4 separate regions of the Homo sapiens genome follow, and all the other regions are reported to be linked to region 4. The links are microRNA targets in miRTarBase. Many come from high-throughput screens and were not tested one by one. Region 4 holds a microRNA gene; each other region holds the end of a gene's coding sequence.

Region 1 (5,078 bases), not on the chromosome of region 4:
TTAGAGACTTCCCAGTAGTCTCCTAATTCTCACACCCTAGCTTTGTCACCTCTGTTTATTATCTGTGACCCTTTGGCAACCATGAAAGTACCCCTTGGCTTTTTTTCCTTCTCCTTTGCTTGTGAAAATAGACCAGATCTCCCCTGAACAAAAGAAAAGTAAAATTATTCACTCTGCTTATTCAGTCAGGAGGACTCTGTCTCCTAGGAAGTGTAGTTCTTGTTAACATTTTGAGCATAAGTTGTCTGTTTATTATATCTTGAGATTTGAGGTCTCCAGCTTTCCAACTCCAAATCCAGTCATGGCTAAAATAGAAGTGTTTTTCCCCCCTAAGAAGTCGTATCTCTAATAAGGCCAGACTCAGTGGCTAACACCTGTAATCTCAGCACTTTGGGAGGCCAAGGAGGGCAGATCACCCGAGGTCAGGAGTTTGAGACCAGCCTGGCCAACATGGTGAAATCCCATCTCTAATAAAAATACAAAAATTAGCCAGGCGTGGTGGTGGACACCTGTAGTCCCAGATACTCAGGAGGCTGAGGCAGGAGAATCACTTGAACCCGGGAGGTGAAGTTTGCAGAGAGCCGAGATCATGCTACTGCACTCTACCCTGGGCAACAGAGCAAAACTCCATCTCAAAAAAAAAAAAAAAAAAAAGTCATTATCACCTCCCAAGCAAAGCTAACAGAGAGGATAGGAGGTACCTTGGACTCGGTAGTATGGATGTAAGGCCTTAGCATGAGAAAACTAAGAACTGTGAAAGAGCTCTGATTTCTGAGAACAATTCTGAAAAGCCCTGCAGGGTTGTTGTTTTTTTCCTTGAATGTAGTGGTAGACTTTTTCTTTTTTGGAGTGGTAGGGGACTTGTCTCACAGAGCTTGGAAAGTATCTCTCATGTGAACATATTCCACCATCATCTAAAAACATGCTTTTTAAAAAACCACACTTGGCTGGGCACAGTGGCTCACGCCTGTAATCCGAGCACTTTGGGAGGCTGAGGCAGGCGGATCACTTGAGGTCAGGAGTTCAAGACCAGCCTGGCCAACATGGTGAAACCCCGTCTCTACTAAAAATACAAAAATTGCCAAACGTGGTGGCTCACGCCTATAATCCCAGCACTTTGGGAGACTGAGGCAGGTGGAACATGAGGTCAAGAGATCAAGACCATCCTGGCTAACATGGTGAAACCCCGTCTCTACTAAAAATACAAAAATTAGCTGGACGTGGTGGCACGTGCCTGTAGTCCTAGCTACTCGGGAGGCTGAGGCAGGAGAATCACTTGAACCCGGGAGGTGTAGGTTGCAGTGAGCCAAGATGGCGCCACTGCACTCCAGCCTGGCAACAGAGCAAGAGTCCATGTCAAAAAATAATCATAATAAATAAAATAAAAATAAAAATACAAAAATTAGCTGGGTGTGGTAGCAGGCCCCTGTAATCCCAGCTACTCTAGAGGCTGAGGCAGGAGAACTGCTTGACCCCGGGAGGTGGAGGTTGCAGTGAGCCGAGATTGTACCACTGCACTCCAGCCTGGGCAGCAAAGGCTGCCCATCTCAAAACAAACAAACAAACAAATAAAAAAACACACACAAAAACATTGAGCTCAGTTTCCTCAACGAAAAAAGGAGCATATACCTAACCTACCTTCCTTGCTAGGCACTGAGAAGGGCCAATAAAATTATGTTTATAAAACTTAGTATTTTAATGTAAGAAAACACCCCCCTCACACACAAACACATTTCCTCCCACCAAACAACCTCCACAAGCTTGGAATCAGTCATCCTGGGTAATGGATGACTAGATGTGGGCCATGGAGGTATCTGACAGAAGAAAGGTGACTACATCAGGACAGAACTTGACTCAAAACTAAATTCTAAACAAAATATTTTTATCCTACAAAACAGCTCAATGAGCCACTCCCCACAGCTAATCCTCCATCTTTCATAGAGGTCATCTGGCCACAGTGGCTAGACCTGGGCACACGCAGGGACAGAGCAAAACAGAAGAGGGGCCTATGGCACTATCTGGATGGAGAGGAAAACTCATGTGCGCTATTTTTCGGATGACCCTAGGCTTGTATTATTAGAAAAGTGCTTTCCTTCCTAGGACTTCTCCTTCCAAGGCCTATACTCAGTTAAGAGAGAGACTGAAAAGAGATGGTGCCTGGCCTTAGATTAACTGAGGTGCTGTTGTATGCATGCTGCTAATGGATCATTAAAAAAGCTGGGAGTCAGAAAAATCACATCCATGTCTTTGAATGGCTCCTGCTGTCCCAGCAGCCTAGCCGGCTGGCAGAACTAGCTGCTGAGCACCAACTCCAGGAAGAAAAGGAGCAAACAGAAGAAGGCCAACCCAGCTTGCTGTTTTTTTGGCTGAGTAGGGAATTGACACAGACCACCTCCAGCTCCTGTCTGGAAGTTTCGAGATCAGAGAGCTTCAGGCACAGCTGGGTTCACAGCTGCACCATTTGGAGCATTGGGCTCATTAATATTCATGAGCCATCCCCACCAATCGGCAGAGCGGATGCCATTAGCTTAGCATCTGTCGGGTTTTTGTGAGGGTTGCACATGGAGTTTTTTTCCCCTTTTAAATGAACTTCTTCTGACATTTTGGATTTGCCTCTGTAGGTTTTCTATCCTCGCCTTGCTCTGCTGCATCATATAAAGGAGAGACCCAGGGGAGGCGGGCAGGAAAGAGGGATGAATACCAGCCAGGGCTTTGCATCTGCCTGTTGACAAACTTTATTTCTCTTTCAGCACCTGGCACCTCAGACAGACTGCGAGGATGGAAGCAGCATCAGGTAAATTATACCTAACAAGGTTCACGCCCAGAACTGTGAGAAGAGTTGGATCCCAGCTCTTTGGAAGACAATCCTTCCTCCAGTGGTGAACTTGAGCTGCACACACAATGCAGGAGGGCTACAGAGCACAGTTCTGAAGCATTATTTCCACACTGATAAATTCATGATTTATGAAAGGAAATACTGCCAGCGCTCACTCCCTCCTTCTCTGCTACAGCTTGTTAGACACAAATTGCAACAACAATCTTAAATACTTGCATTTTATTTCAGGCCAAAGCCCCTCCACTCTGAACTAAATGCCATGACAGTCCCACAGCATAGGCTGGTAGTAAAAGAGCCCACAGACAGGGTAGGATAGCCAGAGGAGGGAGGAGTGGGCGACAGGGAGGGGAAGGATCACACACACAAACCTAAGAGTAGAGCAATGCAGAATGCCTGTGGCACTCGGCTCCTACCAGCTCTGGCTCTCAGTGGAGATGAAGAATGGCAGCAGGAGGACAGAATGCCTCATTGTCTGAAGGAGAGCGTGTTGTTTCTCATCTCCATCCCCAGAGCCCTCTCTTTCAGGCAGGCAGAAACAAAGCCCTTGCACCCCACTGCACTGCGCAACACAGCAGAGACGCTGGTGGCGGAAGCCCTGGAGGCAGGGAGCTGCTACCAAAGGAGAAGAAAAGGATTCCAAAAAGAAAGGAGCCCACTCTAACCCTGCGGAAAAGATGGCCACATGTCTGCTTTATAACCAGAAGAGACAGTAACAGCCCGGGACAGCCTTTCCCAAAATAAAGGCCCCTGGGCTGTTACTGTTCCCTCTGGCTGTGGCCAGCCACTTCTCTCTCATGCATGACCATGAGCTGTTGTGCAGGTCTCAGGCTCCACTCAGCCAGGCTAAGGTCTCGGGACATAAATCCCCAGCAGCAGGAGTCACAGCACCAGTTCCATTCAGTGGTATCAGTGAAAGAAAAAGCAAGGAGGTGGGAAAGTAAATATTCATCCCCCTGTCCATGCAAGGAGGTAGGCAAGAGGCCAGCCTCCCACAAACAAAGTGCTCTAGGGCTACAGCAAAAACTGAAGCCAGCCAAGATGGGGATACAACATAACCACTCCCAGTGGGATGATGTTCAATATGGCAGCTTAGAATTTGCCACATACGGGTCCCCAAAACTGGTCACCTGAGGAGATACTCCTGGTCCTACATACAAATGACCTGCAGAAACTCAGATCCCAGGAGAGTAATATAGGGTTCTGTTCAAAAGCAACAGCCCCTGTGTCTTATGTTTAACTTACAAACATCTGCACAGTATTTGTTCCCATGGAAGAGGCATAAGGGGCTGTAATGACTGACCTCTGTCAATCAGCCCAAGCAGAGGTGACTAGAAGACACTAAGCAGCCCAGCCTCCCACATACCTGCCCTGTGCCCAGTCCCACCTGAGTAAGTCTCCTGGCCCGCATCTTCTCTGACCATCTCAGAGCAGAACCCAGAGCTCACTTTTCCAAAACTGTTTCTAACTGACCAGGGTCCAAAGGCACAGCATGATCTCCTCCCACAGCCCTCCTCACAGACTGAAGAGTGGAGGTTCCCTCTTTGGGTCTTCCAAAATCACAGCATAATGGTGAGGAGAGGGGTGGGAGAGTGGGACTTTCCAAGGAAGGAACCTCAGAGTCAACAACTGGAGCCCACACTTCTAAATGGTCCTTTTCTTCACTGGGAGGCGGTGAGGGAGAGCTCCTCCTACCCGATCTTGGAAGAAAGCAGCAACTGGAAAAGAGTGGGAAAGGGAAAAGAAAGGTATGAACAGCTTGGGTAACATAGGGAGACTCCGTCTCTACAAAAAAATAAATTAGCCAGGGATGTTGGCATGTGCCTGTAATCCCAACTACTCAGGAAGCTGAGGCCAGAAGATTGCTTGAGCCTTGGAGGTCAAGGCTGCAGTGAGTTATGATTACACCACTGCACTTCAGCCTGGGCAACAGAGTGAGACTCTGTCTCAGAAAAAAAAGTATGAACATATAAACAAAAATGAACAGAAAGGGAAGTCTCTCTGAGCCTGTTCTGACTCAGGAGGCTGCCCGATTAAAAAAAAAAAAAATGGCTGGGCATGGTGAATTATTTGAGTCTGGGAGGTGGAGACCAACCTGGGTAACCTGGTGAAACCCTATCTCAATTTAAAAAAATAAAAAAGAGGCCGGGCGTGGTGGCTCACGCCTGTAATCCCAGCACTTTGGGAGACCGAGGTGGGCAGATCACGAGGTCAGGAGATGGAGGCCATCCTGGCTAACACGGTG
Region 2 (5,078 bases), not on the chromosome of region 4:
TGTTTGTTTTTGAGGTACAGGGACCACTGCAGTGGAGTCTTGCAGTGGGGCAGAGAGATTGGGCTCAACTCCCTATTCTGGCTTTTCCTATGAATTGGTAGATTTAGAAGATTGAACAGATCACTTGATAAGATTGAAGTTCTTTCTTTTTTGGCAAAAATACTTCATAATTGGATTTCATGTCCCCTACCCCTTAATTTTTTAAAGTGAGCCTCGAAAATGTTAAGTAATTCGCCCATGGTCACGTATCTAGAAACAGAGCTGGGATTTGCACCCAGGGGGTCTGGCTGCAAAATTTATGCTCTTAGTTACGATGCCGTCATGGAATAAAAATCTCCTATGGCTCAGTGTGTTACATCTCATGATGAGATTTATACTCAGGAGATATAAGAGTGGGATGATGCTAAGTAAACAGACTTTGTAGATCATTTATTAAAGTCCCTAGAATTACGCCTTACAAAATATGTGCTTGTAATAGCTGCTCTGTGTTGGATTTCTCCATCTTAAAATATAGAATCCTGAGGTATGGTTCCATATCTGTTTCCTTCTTACTGTGTTCTGCCCTAATCATGCCTTTTTTCCATTCTTCCTCCACCTTTCTTTATGTTCTTCACTATATTTTCGACTGGATGACATTTCTATTTTGCCTCTCTAGGACTGGTTCGTTGTAAACCCAACAACAACCAAAAGCTTTGAAAAGCTGATGAAGATAAAGCAGCGGCAGCAAGAAGAAGAAAAGCGGAGGCAGCAGCACAGGAGCAGAAGGTCTCTAAGAAGGCGGCAGCAGCCTGGCATTGAGCTTCCCGAGACAGAGCTGAGTCTTAGAGTAGGGAAGGATCAGAGGAGGAATAATGAGGAACTGGTAGTGTCAGCCTCCTGTAAGGAACCAGAGCAGGAGCCAGTGCCAGCACAGTTCCAGAAAGTAAAGCCCCCAAAGACTAATCATAAACGAGGAAGGAAATAGGCAGTCAGTGTAAAAGTGCTCCTAGGAAAGCAGATGTGATGCTGTTGTCACGGGGACCTGTGCTGGGAGGACTGAGTGAAGATTCTTTCAGCTGTTTGTGTAAGGCTGTGACTTTCTCAGCTCCTTCCTCCTGTGTAAATTTCACTGTCTTCCCTTCTTACATTTTGATTCCCCCCTCCCCTTTTAGTAGGTTTTCCTGCTATTCCTCGTCAAGTCCTCTTGTTTTTTTATCTTGCCCAAAGAGCTCCCTCTCAAGGCCAACTATAGGCTCCTCTTGCCCTGTACAAAACTAAGAAACCTCTTTGGTTGTCCTTTCCTTCCTGGGGTATAGAATGTTCTTGGAAGCTCCATTGATTTAGTAGCTGCTCCATCATCTAGCTTGTGAAACCATTCCAAACTAATTTTTTAAAACCATAACTGATTTGTCATTTTGTATTTGTGATATAACAAGTCTAGAAGTTAGAACTGTTGTCATTCACATAATAAGATTACTCTGTCTCCTTGGGAAAAAAACTTTATGGAGGCTGTTTGTCCTCTCAATATGGTTTTAAGATTGAAAGTAAGAAAACGGATTTAGGATGAAAACTCTAGAACTACCCTATGCTGTTTATACTGGGAAATGCTTTGTACCAAGTAGCAGTGACTAGACCCACAGACATGAAAAGCAACCTTAGGAGTAAAGTGACCCAAACATTAAAATGACAGGAAAGAGAAAGTAGAAGCAGCAATAAATACTGCCCCAACTTTCCTGGAGCCCGAGGCCTCATCCATAGCTATGATCACTTGCCCTCTGAAGCTTATTTTTGCTTCTTTGGTTTTAAGAATTGAGAAATATCACATTGCCCCTGATGTTTTGACAGTCTCCTAGTGCTCCTGGTAGTGCCACTAAGGGAAAACCAAGGTGCGCATTCCTTCTCCCTGGACTTTACCTTACTTGTTAGTCTACGCCCCACTGTTTCCACCCATCCCCTTAGCCAACCTCTGTCTTTTTGAATTTTCTGAGAATATTGTCCTATCCTCTTTTATATATGGAGTTCTCTCCTCTTTATATCCTGAGACTTTGACACCAGATGTAGATATTTATCTGGAGCTGGAAAGAAAAATTCTTTTTCTGTACCTCATGCCTATCTGGTAATGTTTAATGGGTTATTTCTCTTTGAGGGTGGCTTTCTCTGGAACATTGGTTAGAGCAGCTTTGTTGTCGTGTTTCTGGATTCTCTTCCCCATTTTGCGTAAATATTGGTCTTATATATTCTTGCCTATTTTGTGGCATATGCCACATAAAAAATGAACCTGATATAGACAAGTACTACCTTTTCAAATTCTGAAAGGCTATTACCACTTTAACTCTTTGTGCTCCTCCAAATAGCTTTAAAATGTGGGCTTTTGTGAAGACCACTTTCAAACAAGGGAGCACTGAAACCTGAATTGGATACTGCCAGAATAGGTAGTTTTGAAACAAGTTAAGGACATGGTATATGCACTCTGCATTTTCATTGGCAGTGTGCCCTTAAAGCCCTTTCAGTAGATGAGGGTTGTCAGGGAGGAGAAATGAAGAAGCTATGTTAATTTCTGGTGAGTAAGACCTGGGGAATGTTTGGCAATGACAAAAGAAATAAATGACTCTCAGAAAGATGTTTCCAGTGTTCTTTGACGCCGACCTGCTGCATGACTCCTTGACACTGTATGGGGGTAAGAAGATGGCTAGAGATGGGGGTGAGTTTGAAATAAATTCCACATGCAGTTGTCTCAGTAATTCTTTGGTTCATGAATTATGCTGGTTAAAATGAGTAGTTTGAGATTAAAGTGAATTAGTATAGGAAACTTGCCCAGTTTCATCCAGGGACCTCTTGCAGGCATTCCTTTCGTTTTTCCTGACCAAGACCAGGGATCAGCAGGACTCAGTATAGACTATTCTAATCACAGTATTGAGTTTTAAAGTTTTTTTAAAAAAAATTCATTAGACTAACAAACTAAGTTTGACAGTATTATGAACTTTCATACATGGTTTGGAATGCAAATTGGTACAATCACTTCAAAAGTGATTTGGCAGTATCTAGCAGAGTTGAAGATATGTACCCGAAGACTTAGCAGTTTCTCTCCTGGGTATACACAGAGTAACTCCTTTTGTCTAGGCGTACCAAGAGACACAAAAAAGAATGATTATTGCAGTACAGTTTACAGTAGAGAAATACTGAAAACAAGTATCAGAGATCTACTTTCACCTTTGCAAATTATGGGATTATAGAACAAATGGCTAGACTGTATATTTCCTAGTTATCCCCCTTCCCTCCACTCTCTCTAGTGAAGGAGAAGCCAGCTAACTCCTCTCCCATGGAATGTGAGTGGAGTGATGAATGCCACTTGCAGGTTAGAACTTTTGAGTGGGTGTACCTCCAAGCTTTCTTTACCCTTCTTCTGGCTAAATGCAGATGATGATGGGGCCCTAGGAGATGGAAGAACACAAAATGGAAGATATCTTGACCCCCTGAATCACCTGTTGAAGGAGAGCCACTTGCCAACCAGGAACATGTATCTGAGACTATTAAGTGAGCAAGAAATAAATGTCTGTTATTTGAGACATTATACATTCTTGGGTCTCTTTGTTAGCCTACTCTAATACACAATAATTATCCATTATCAGAATGGATAAATTGTGATATAGTCATACAGTAGAATACTATACAAGCTATAAAATTGAGTAGGGTTTCTCGTATCATCATGAATATGTCTCAATGTCTGGGGCCAGGCACAGTGGCTCACACCTGTAATCCTAACGTTTTGGGAGGCTGAGGCTGGAGGATCGCTTGAGCTCAGGAGTTCTAGACCAACCTGGGCAATGTGATGAAATCTCATCTCTACAAAAAAATTAAAAAAATTAGCTGGGCATTGTGGTGTGCACCTATAGTCCCAGCTAGTTGGGAGGCCGAGATGGGAGGACTTCTTGGGTCCAGGAGGTCAAGATGCTGCTATGAGCTGTGATCACACTACTGCACTCCAGCCTGCGTGACACAGTGAGACCGTCTAAAAAAATACAAAGAATATTCTGCACATCTCCTTAAAAGAGAACATTTTAGAAATTTACTCTTGCTTCATCTCTCTCTTCTTATAGCAAATCCATTAGCAAGTCCTGCCTACCACCAACTACATTTTGAATCTGTTCACTCTACTTCTGCCATTCCAATCTAAGCCATCATTACCTCTTGCCTAGACTACAGTATCTTCGTAATTGGTTTCCTTCCACTTTTTTCTGGCTTGGATACACTCCACATAACAGTTGTAGTTTTTAAAATTAGGTAAATCAGACCTCATTCACCTGCTAAAGGCCCTCGGTGCCTAAACTCCTGCTAGCCTTAATAGCCTCATCTTCCTTTCCTCCACTCATGTTCTGTGACCATTCCTCAACTATACTTTACATACACACCTTTCTGTTCCTTGAACCTACCAAGCTTATTGCCATCTTAAGGCATTTGCATTCACTGTTGCCTCTGCCTAGAATAGTTTCTTCCCCAGTTTTTGCATTGTAGGCTTCATTTTAGCAATCATAGGTCTTAAATTTCACCTCAGAGGTCTTTTCCATCTAAACTCACTTTCTGTAACATAACCCTGTGTAATTTTCTAAATAGCAAAGCAGACAAAATGCAGATTGAAATCTTAGTTGGCCAACTTGCTGCTTACTTAGAGGTATGGATTTCAAGGTATGAAATCAGTTATCATTCAACTTTTAATGTCTTCAAGCCCTCACTCTGGAAGGGACAGCCACAAGCAGTATACCATATCCATTACCTGGGATGATAAGTAAAAATGAACTGAGATCAGGTGGAAGTTACCCACTCTTGAATTAGATAATTGGGACACCAGTGGCAGGAGGGGAATTAACAGAACTAATATGCTTCCTACTTTCCAACTTTTTATCAGCCTTAGAAATACATTGTCTTAGGGTTTTTACGTCCACAGAGACTAAGCCTTCAAGTTTGTCTTGGATACCATGCTTTCCTTGTTCAGTGTTTCTGTATTTTCAGCTCACAAATTGAGATTTAGGTTAAAGTACCTGTATGCTAAAATCCTAATTTCTGCATTAAAACTAGTTTTTATTATTTGCACATGTGAATAA
Region 3 (5,078 bases), not on the chromosome of region 4:
GTTCTCCCAATGGTGGAGATGCTTATTACCTGATTCACTGTTGACTCCTCTCTAGTTATGTTCTGCTCTGCTCTAGTAACCGCAGATGGCAGATCAGTAAGTCCACTGTGTGGACTCTAACAGAATAAAATGCCAGTTCCCTAATATCTATAATTGGTGTTCTCTGGGAGCTATCATTAGTTGAATTGGGAGAGGTGGACCAAACCCAGAACATTCTCACTCATCACTCACTTTTCCCAGGTAACCCTCCAGCCCATCCTCTTCTGCTCATGATGACTCTTAGGACACAGGAATGGAAGTTCTGCCACCAGCCTCTTAATGAGTCCCACAGAGGTTTCCCGGGGGGAGGGGGGGCTTTTAGGAGAGAAGAACAAGTCTTCTCAAAGCACTGAAGTGATGATGAGCGGCATCTCACCTTTGCTTAAATAACAATATTTTATCATGTGTGCTCTTCCTATTTGAAAAGCTTTAACTCTGAATTTCTTTCTTAATACCAACAACAAATCCTTGCTCCTTTTAGGCTTACAAAAGACTACTTAGTCTTATGGGTTGTCAAACTTTCTATTAGAAATATAATTCCCAACTTCCCTTCCACAGTCCTAAAAGAGGCAGGGTTGTCGAAAGCATTAAATGCTTTGACACTAAGCTCCTTACACATAATAAAGGCTCAATAATTAGTTCTTAAGCACTTATCATACAGACGTAATTCTAGTACAATGTGGTATGTTGTACACACATTTTTGTACTGGAATTACTTGCTTATGTGTATCTTCCATTTCATGGTATATGCTTCCAGGAAGTAATTGTTATTACTATGCACGGAACTTTGCATGTAACAATTAGTTTCACAATATTCTGCCATGATTCTTGATATAAAAGCAATTATTAACATTGTTATCTCTGTTGTTCTCTCCCCACTATATACTGATCAGTGAAAAAATGATTTAAGAAATGAGGAATTTAAAGACCAGATGGTACTGTTGATCAGGAATTATCAATTATATATTATAGTACATCATCCTGAAGGCTTTCAGCATTTCCCAGATATGATATTTCTTACTTGGAACCTTGATACACCTTTGACATTCAGATCTATGACATAGGGGCAATTTTATCTATTAGGCTACCTTAAAATTGTGATTTTGGTACTTAATAACTAAATTACCTAGGATGGGTACACCTTGCACCACTTTGTTCAATTAGACATGAAAAAGAAAAATTACATCATAGAAATGCTCTAAAATTTTTGTGTTCATTTGAAAAATAAAGTACCAACTCTGCATTTAGTTAACGTTCATTTTATAAAATACTTTAAAAGAACAGATAAAGTACTTGAGGTTACATAATAACCAGAATTGAAAAGGAATGAATAAAATATAAATTAATTGAACATATGACTATTTTGCCACATCACACAAGTTTTAAAAAGGCATTTTAAAAAACAATAAAATAGTAATTGGGGAAAAAACCCTTCACTCTATTGGTGTCTTTGTCTGGAAAACTTTCCCAGAATCACTAAAATTCCAGGTCAACAGGTAGTACCTGAATTATTCAAGTATACTGTAATTTGCTTCCAAATCTGTTAGCTGAAGAGAGAAACTAAAATTTTATCCAAGTTAATTCAGTGCAAATCAAAGCTTCAAGTTGAAAATCTGAGAGAAAAAATAACGTTCGAACTGTAGGAAATGCTTCTGGAACTGAAAAATTAAAAAATCACATTATGAAGAAATCTTTGCAAGTGTTCTTGGTATATGAAATGCTGAGTTAAGAAATGGGACCCTTTTAAGTTGCAGTGAGGGTTCTATTATGAAGACTATTTGCAATGTGGGCAAAAGGGAAACAGAGAGGGAAGAGCTGAAGGTTGTATTTGTGGAAGGAAATTCAAGTTAAGCAAAAACTGCTTTTATTCAATTCTAGAAAAATTTGGTGAGATATATCATACATTAGGGGATAAAACAGATTATGGAGATAAATTTACTGGAATATAATTGAGGATAAGTCCTTCTATCTCCAGAACATGTTTGGGTTGGGTGAGAAGGGTTGATATTGGCCACATATCAGTAAGTTAATTTGTCTTAATTTTATGTATTATATGAAATGCTGACTTAAAAAAAAATTGTTACCAAATCTTGAGAAATGGAAGGAATGTCTAACTTTTTGGATCACAGTGAAACAAAGTCTGGATCACTTCCAGACATCAACGAGCAGTCGCTTTTACAATAAAAAAAAATTTTTTTAGGTTTAATTTCATAGGTGATAGATAGCAATGGGTCTTTCTTGACAGTGTTTAATAGAAAGTTTTCCTCTTTTCATTCCATTACGTATGAATTTTTGATTCATTCTTTTTAAATGACAATACTAATGGTTGCTATTGAGTACAAGATGCAGAGATTTTGCTGGAGGCTGGTAAATTTTCTCTGCAAAACAGATATCCCCCCACCCCCCACCCCCAAATTTCAGGTCCAGGTTTGCTATATCATCACTAGTCCTTTTTTAATTCTCACTGGAAATTTTCAAATATTGTTTATAAACTGAATGAGAATGTGCTATGTTCTCTAACATTCTTATTTTACATCATTCTCTAATATATTAGGAATGTTGCAACAATGTTATCACAATGAAGTGGCAACTTTTGGCCTTTAGACTGTACCTATCATCAGCAATCATAAAAAGGCCAAAATAAACAGTGCTATTCCAAGGTGACATCTGAAACTGTTAAAACAAGTGAAAAATCATAATGACAAAACAGGGGTTCATAAAGCAAAAGAAAATTTGCCAATGCAATTTTAAAAGTGTAAGAAACTTCACTCATGTACCTACTCATGGGAAGAACATCTAAGGCAAATGAAAAATTCCCCTCCAGGGACATAACCAGCTCAGAACCATCTGAAAAAATTCATACAAAAGCAGAAATTACCCAAGGCCTGTGAGTCCTCATCTCATACCATGAAAGCCAGACTGTCAAAAAAAGGGCACATGTCACTTTGCAAAGGAATGTATTAACTCCTCTCCCAGGGTCAACTTAGTCTACGTGTCTTTTGTATAACATTAATTTCCACCAGATCTACTAGATGTTCAGTCATGTCCTTTCAGGTCCTGAAGGCAGGCTCACTCTCTGATGCATCTTTTTATATCATGGTGGGTGTGAAGTGAAAAGAGGAGACACAGAAATATGCACAAACCCACAATTAGTCCATATTTAGAAAACTTTCTGTGGGTTCAAGCATTTACACAGAGATGATTTTATCTCATTTCTCCATTAATTTCCCATTTGAAATGAAAACCAGCTAATTCTAAATTCTAAAGCCCTGGGGGAAACCTTCCAGGCTTTGTCTATCAGACAGACTTTGTCATAAAAAACACAGAAAAACAAAAATAAAACATTACGCTGGAATCAGCTTTTGAGAGTTTGTGCTTTAAAAACACAGTGCCTAACAGCACCAAGCATATCATAGATGCTCAATAAATATTTGTAGATTTATTAAGAGTAATAACATGGTGTTTAAAGAACCAACCACCATTTTGTAAAATAGGCAAAACTACATTAATTTCTTTCACCTGATTTGATAAAGCAGTGTGGAGCAATGAATGAGAGAATCTGCAAATTAAATATGAACTCTAATTTGATTGCAGAGAGAAAATTACTGAGAACTTTGCAAAAAACATTGCCACAGTAGCCTTGACACTCAACAGTGCAACGAAGAGTTAATGTTTCCACTGCAATATGAACTGGTTCCCACAGCTCTTAGGAGATAGAGTGTAATCACTTAAATGGGAAATGAACTCTAATTCCACTTGAGAAAAGGTATGTTATGTTCATAATTTTATCTGAAAATTATTAATATATTTCAGGGAGATGGTCCTCTCATTCAGCATCCCTCAAAGTAATGCAGGCATAAGTATCAGGGGACCTTGTTATATAACTTCAGTACAGCATTGTCTTATACAAGTGTTCTCTCTTCCACATCTGTAGTAGCTGCTTTCTAATATTGTAGATTTTTACAGTTGTGACACCCCTGGGATGACAGACATGAGAATATGGAGGATTAAAGGTTACAAAACTTAAACAAAAAAGGGAAGCTCCTCTATGTTATGTGAAAACCCCTTACAAAAGGCAGTTTATTGACAAATAAATGCTTTATACATTCAGGTTTTTCCCATCTCTCAATAGTGATGGTTTCCAAAGAAGAAACTCAGTAGTGAAGAATACATACTTTTTTTTTTTTGCATTAGTTTGATCAGTTGAAAATCAGAACCTTCAAAGCATCTTGTGAATGAGAGAAATGGAACTGGACCTGGGCAAGGCATGGGGATGGTAGAGATCCATATGAATAAATGATTTAGCTGTTGATGTGGACAGCAAGAGAGTTGGTGGGAAATGTTACAGCAGACCTGACCACGCTACAAAGGGTCTGTGAAGAACACAGTACAGGTATCAAAACACCAAAACAAAACTAAACTAAAAACAAGAACAAACTGCAACTTTGCCAAACTGTAAACAAGGTAAAGCATTTCACAGGTTCAAAGTTCAAGGGAAGTAAACGTCTTTAAATTATTTTTGTCAGTTCAACCCTGATTTAAAAATATGGCTAGCAAAAACAAGGAAGCCACAGCTGTCGACATCCTGAGCAAGCATCGGTCTCCTTTGAGAAGCTGCACTCCCAAGCCTCTTCTCAAGCTGCTACACGAGGAGGAGACACTTCTCTCTTGAATTCCATCTCAGTTCTCTTTATTTCCACACTCTTGGAATACATCGATTGCTTTCCATTTTGGTGTCTACAGTTCTGGCTGCTATAGATTTAGACGTGGGGATACTGGAGGAGGGAAGGCAAATTCTCGGAGGATGCTCCGGGCAACTTCGACATTATTCTGGGCTATCTCTAAGGCTCTCTTCACCTCTTCAAAGGCATAACCCTCTCCCATGAGTTTTGCAATTTTTGCATCGACATTTTCCAATGCCGCCTCAGGCCCATGGGGTTTTCTGTGGTGAATTTCTGGTGCAGTCCTGCGCGGTCGTGGTTTAGGGGGTCTGGCTGGTGCCTGTGAACCATCTGTGTAGATTTTTAAAGAGAGATACT
Region 4 (5,000 bases):
TGTCATGGCTTGGCTCTGATTTGCTTGAAGTCAACTCTGGGTGACTTGTTCAAAACTTCCAAATCGGCTCCCCACTGTATGTGAAATTATTGTGTTCCACAGAAGCAAAATACAACACACTCAAAATATGCCAATGAAACAAGTAAAACCAGTAAGAAAATACTTTGAAAGTACAAAAGGAAGCCATGTCCCCCTCAAAGCCCGTGGGTAGGGCCTCTGTGCATCTGCTAGTGATGCTGCCATTCCTTTTAAGGACTTTGGTTGATACTCAAACAATGTAAGAAAACAAGCTGCAGGAATTCTCTGTAATAGTATTTTTTTCCTTTCTTTTTCCTTTTTAACTAACCAATATTAACAACCTGCTCACCAGTCCAAATCATAAGATGGCAGGCACACTTAATGACTTCTAGCCAATAAACATCAAGGCAGTCAGTAGAGCATGACAGCTTATAGCTCAAGCTCTGGACTCAGGTGGACCTAGCTTGAATTCCAGCTCTGTGTCCTTCTATCAGGTGCCTAACCACACAGTTTCAGTCTCCTCATCATCGTAAACTAACGATGAAGATACTACCTATACGTAGTATGCCCCAGGACTGTGAGGATTAAGATGAAATAGTGTATAAAAGTTCATGGCACAATGCCTGCCAACAGACATTGCTCTATAACTACTAGTTATTTCAATGTTATAACTAGAAGAGCTAACTGCAGAGGATGGAGACTTGCTATCAATGCACATGGTACTGGTTCTAAAAATATTCCTAAAGAGCTCAATGATAGAAGACCAGTTCAAAATCATGGACTGCTTTCCAAGGTGATACTTGAGACTGGTGTTCTTTAGAACATAAAGCCTCAGGTAAATCTGTTTACACAACACTTACTATATCCTCTCTACTTCACAGAGCAATATTCTTGATAGCCCCAAATTAGAAGTATACAAATTTCCACCAACAGTGGAATAAACTATAGGATATTCACAAATGGAACACTATATAACAATGAGAATTGAGTATAACTACACGAATAACATGGATTAATCCCACAAACTGTTGAGTAAAATAAATTATATATATAAAGTAAGTACTGACTGATACCATTTACATCATGTTCAAAAACAGGCAGAACCAATCTATGGTCAAGATAGAGGTTACCCTTGGAGGGTGAACAGTGATTAGAAAGGGGCATGTGGAAGATTTCTGGGGTGCTGGTAGTATTTTCATTTTGGTTGCTGGTGACAGACTGTATCCAACTGGTGGAAATCCAGTAAGCTGTCACTTCTTGGTGTGTTTATTAAACATCAATAAAAAGTTTTAAAATATACAAAAATCATAACACAAAATTTTAAAGTGATAATTGTGTTTACTGCCCTAATTTGCCTAAAATATATTTAAGAATTTTAACATTAACCTAAAATATTTTTCTAATATGAGATAAAGCTGATGTTCTTTTTTAAAATAGTGGTACCAACACCTTAGTCAAGAAGAGTACTGTTGGGACATATTATTTTTGAACATACCTGCAAAAAGGCAAATAATAAAGCTGTTTATTATGGTTTCCCTGTCATAGTACCTAACAAAGAATTAACTGAAGTAACCAGGAATTAAATTAAACCCCCCCCCCCCTTTTTTTTTTGAGACAAAGTCTCACTCTTGTCTCCCGGGCTGGAGTGCAATGGCGCAATACCGGCTCACTGCAACCTCTGCCTCCCCAGGTTCAAGCGACTCTCTTGCCTCAGCCTCTTGAATACCTGGGATTACAGGTGCCTGCCACCACGCCGGGCTAATTTTTGTATTTTTAGTAGAGACGGGGTTTCACCATGTTGGCCAGGTTTGTCTCGAGCTCCTGACCTCAGGTGATCCACCTGCCTCGGCCTCCCAAACTGCTGGGATTACAGGCTTGAGCCACTGCGCCCGGCTAAATGATTTTTCACTCAAAAAATATTTGGTGCGCTCTTATAACCTGACAGTCATAAAGCACAAAAATGCTAGAGTACGCATTATAAGAAAATTTCACTGTTGATCAATTGAAAGTATTCCTATTGAGGAATTTTTTATACTTGATAATAGGCCACTGGCAGGTTAATCTCATTCTACTTCTCAATGAATTCATACCTATGAATAAGTAAACAGGATGTAGGAAGGACAGGTTCCTTGAGTCACAGACATCACCTCATCAAAGTAGGACCAAGGTGATTTTCCTATGAGTTTGCCCAACATGTTCCATACCAAAAATCACTTCTCAACTAATATAGTCAAAAACAAATATACAAGGCTGGGCATGGTGGCTCATGCCTGTAATCTCAGTACTTTGAAAGGCCAAGGTGGGTGGATTGCTTGAGCTCAGGAGTTTGAGACCAGCCTGGGCAACATGGCAAAACCCCATCTCTACCAAAAATACAAAAAATTAGCTGGGTGTGGTGGTGTGGTGTGCATGCCTGTAGTCCCAGCTACTCAGGAGGCTAAGGTGGGAGAATCACTTGAGCATGGGAGGTGGAGGTTGCAGGCAGCAGAGATGGTGCCACCGCACTCTAGCCTGGGCAACAGAGGAGACCCCGCCTCAACAAAATAAAATACACACGCATACACTCCAGTTAAAGATGAGGGGAATCCCACAGTAATTTGAGTCTACTTGCAAATATTCTTTCAAGGTAGGGAAGGAGAATTCTTTCGAGGTCAAGAAGAAGAATGGGATTTGGGAAACATTTTTAACTACCATAATTTTAACGACCAAAGGGCTATCCAAACTTATTATTTCTTTGTTAAAATCTTGGAAATAATAAAAATTTTGAAAAAAATTAATAACCTATTTAGTTATTGTGATACACTGTTATATGCAAATGTCCAAGTAAGCAATTATATTATATAGTGACATTTTATAATATAAAATGGTGGCCTATTTGGTAGCCTAATTGTATATGTTCAAAACGCAAAGTTAAACACCATTTCTAAAACAGAACAATGCAGAATGAATGAATGCTCAACTACCTGTGCTAGTAGTATATAAGAAGATATCCATAAATTATACTACAGGTACCTATTTAAAGTAATTATATGTAGTTCTAAAAATATGTATTGGATACTTTTTGGAGATAATTTACCTCAGTGGAGCATTCCTTAGTATTAAGAATCACTCATATGTTCTAAGCCTTGAATTCAGTGCCTGGGTGACTCTTCCTGTATCTAGCTAGCTAGGCTACTGGCCTGGAGGTTTGGGCAACACCGAGGTGAGTATGACCATCCCTGTCCTCAAGGAGCTTCAGTCTAGTAGGGGATGAGACATACTAGACTGTGAGCTCCTCGAGGGCAGGAAAAGTGTTTTAGTCATCTTTGCCCCAGTGACTAGCACCAGGCTCAGCTACTGTAGGTGCTCAACAGTGTTTATCGAACTGAATTGAACACGGGTTGCAGCCATCTATAGCAGCATAGGGTAAGCCTGACAAGAAGAACAAAGAGCTTTGGAGACTCAGAGGGTGAAGGCTAGTCAGCTGTGAAGTCACAGAAGACCCAGTGCGTGAAAGAAGCCGAGAAAGATGGGTAAGATCTCCCCAAATGAAGAAGGAGGCATTCTGGGCTGACAGGAGGGTTAGTTTAGCTACTGTGTGTGAAAGGGATGAGAAGACAATCTCAGGCCATAATGAAATGAGGCCTAAATGTTACTGTGGAAGCCTTTACCCAAACATAAAAGGTGACAAAACCCCACTGAAAGTTGTTTTGACCAGGGGAGTTATTTTTCCAGTGACATTTCAGGAAGATTGACTAAGCTGGTCATGCCAGACAGATGGGAAAAGAGCGTGGGATGGAGGGTGGGGGGCAGGCACAAGGAGTGAAGCATGACTCCAAGATGGTGCCGAAGATAAAGGCACTATTCCAACCTGGAGGAAGTGAGGAGGAAGGGCTGGCATAGAAGAGAATGTAACAGCTTGCTTTCTGGATAAACATGATGCCCAGCCAGCAATTTAAAATGTAGGTTTGGGACTTGAGAAAAGGGCAGGACCAGAACTATAGACAGACAGAGGTAAGCAGCAAAGCCATGTGAATGGGTCAGACATCCTGGGAAGAGTAATGAGAGAAAATGGGAGAAAATAAGAGGCTGAAAACAGAAATTTGGTTAATATTCATGGTAAAGGTGGAGAGATGGCAAGTCAATGAGGTAGAAAGAGATGCCAGGGAGGTGGGGTGATAGAACTGGTATCAGAGAGGAACAATGCCAAGGACAGAATCTGTCAAATCCTGAGGAAAGATCAAGGAGGAACAAATAGGAGCAAAACAACATGCAATAAAGCATGTCCAAAAGCCAGCTGTAAAGGTGAGAGAATAGGCAGTTAAGTTATATGAGAATTAATTAAGGAACTGAAGATTTTTGGCTTGAAGAAACTAAGAGGAGGTAAGGAAGCTGTTTAGAATTACCCTGAAGGCCTATCGTGTGAAAGGCAGAGTAGGGTTGTTCTATGGGGCCTTGAAAAGTAGAACCAGGCCGGTGTGTGAGAGTTATGGGGACGGAGACCAAGAGCGTGGCTGGTCTTTCCAATGTGGGGCTCACTGTATTGTAATAACCAGTGATACCTCGGTCTCCTCCACCAGACTTTAAACTCTCTGGGGGCAGGGATTGGGTCTTGTTCACTGTTGGACCCACAGAACCTAGCTTAGAATAACAAAGGTGCTTAGCAAACATTTTCAGACTGGATGAATCCTTTGTGCTTCTACCTATAGGTCTTAATTCTTCTTTGAAATACTCTCCTTAAAAGGAATCCTGTCTAGCAGGTTGAACAGCTTGAACATGTGGTGAGAAGGCTGGGCTAGATGGTGAAAGGCCTGGACCCTGCAGTTGATGATTTTTAGGAAAAAGACTAAAATACAGCATGAAAAACAAACCCATAAAAACTCACATAAAATGGAGGAAGTCCCCAAGTGTGAAAACAGGTGACACAGCACACACTGAACCATGGTATTGTTTATATAATAAAGCTTCTCATGCCTATGTGTTATATTACAGTATCTTGTTTA

Evidence for each region. Region 4 holds the annotated microRNA hsa-miR-151a-5p (UCGAGGAGCUCACAGUCUAGU, at 3,277-3,297, opposite strand). A microRNA usually pairs through its seed, bases 2 to 8, with sites in the 3' UTR of a target mRNA and lowers its output. Matches are read on the target gene's strand: a 7mer-m8 pairs with bases 2 to 8, a 7mer-A1 pairs with bases 2 to 7 and ends in A, and an 8mer does both.
Region 1: miRTarBase lists SNX11 as a target of hsa-miR-151a-5p. The part of its 3' UTR that is shown has no 7-base or 8-base seed match.
Region 2: miRTarBase lists ZNF512 as a target of hsa-miR-151a-5p. The part of its 3' UTR that is shown has no 7-base or 8-base seed match.
Region 3: miRTarBase lists CBLB as a target of hsa-miR-151a-5p. Seed matches in the 3' UTR shown: 7mer-m8 at 4,687-4,693.

Annotation. Positions count from the first base shown.
Region 1 is chr17:48,120,708-48,125,785 of GRCh38, reverse strand. It overlaps SNX11 (sorting nexin 11), which reads right to left. Exons shown (of 7, transcript NM_013323.3): 7 at 2,185-4,551. The coding sequence ends at 4,278. Among named protein-coding and RNA genes, the nearest start is that of SNX11, 15 kb to the right of the region's middle.
Region 2 is chr2:27,620,498-27,625,575 of GRCh38, forward strand. It overlaps ZNF512 (zinc finger protein 512), which reads left to right. Exons shown (of 14, transcript NM_032434.4): 14 at 656-2,720. The coding sequence ends at 964. Among named protein-coding and RNA genes, the nearest start is that of CCDC121, 6.0 kb to the right of the region's middle.
Region 3 is chr3:105,654,179-105,659,256 of GRCh38, forward strand. CBLB (Cbl proto-oncogene B) reads right to left here. Exons shown (of 19, transcript NM_170662.5): 19 at 1,283-5,051. The coding sequence ends at 4,792. Among named protein-coding and RNA genes, the nearest start is that of CBLB, 210 kb to the right of the region's middle.
Region 4 is chr8:140,729,347-140,734,346 of GRCh38, forward strand. It overlaps MIR151A (microRNA 151a), which reads right to left and starts at 3,307; the gene lies at 3,218-3,307. All of the region lies in intron 25 of PTK2 (protein tyrosine kinase 2), which reads right to left.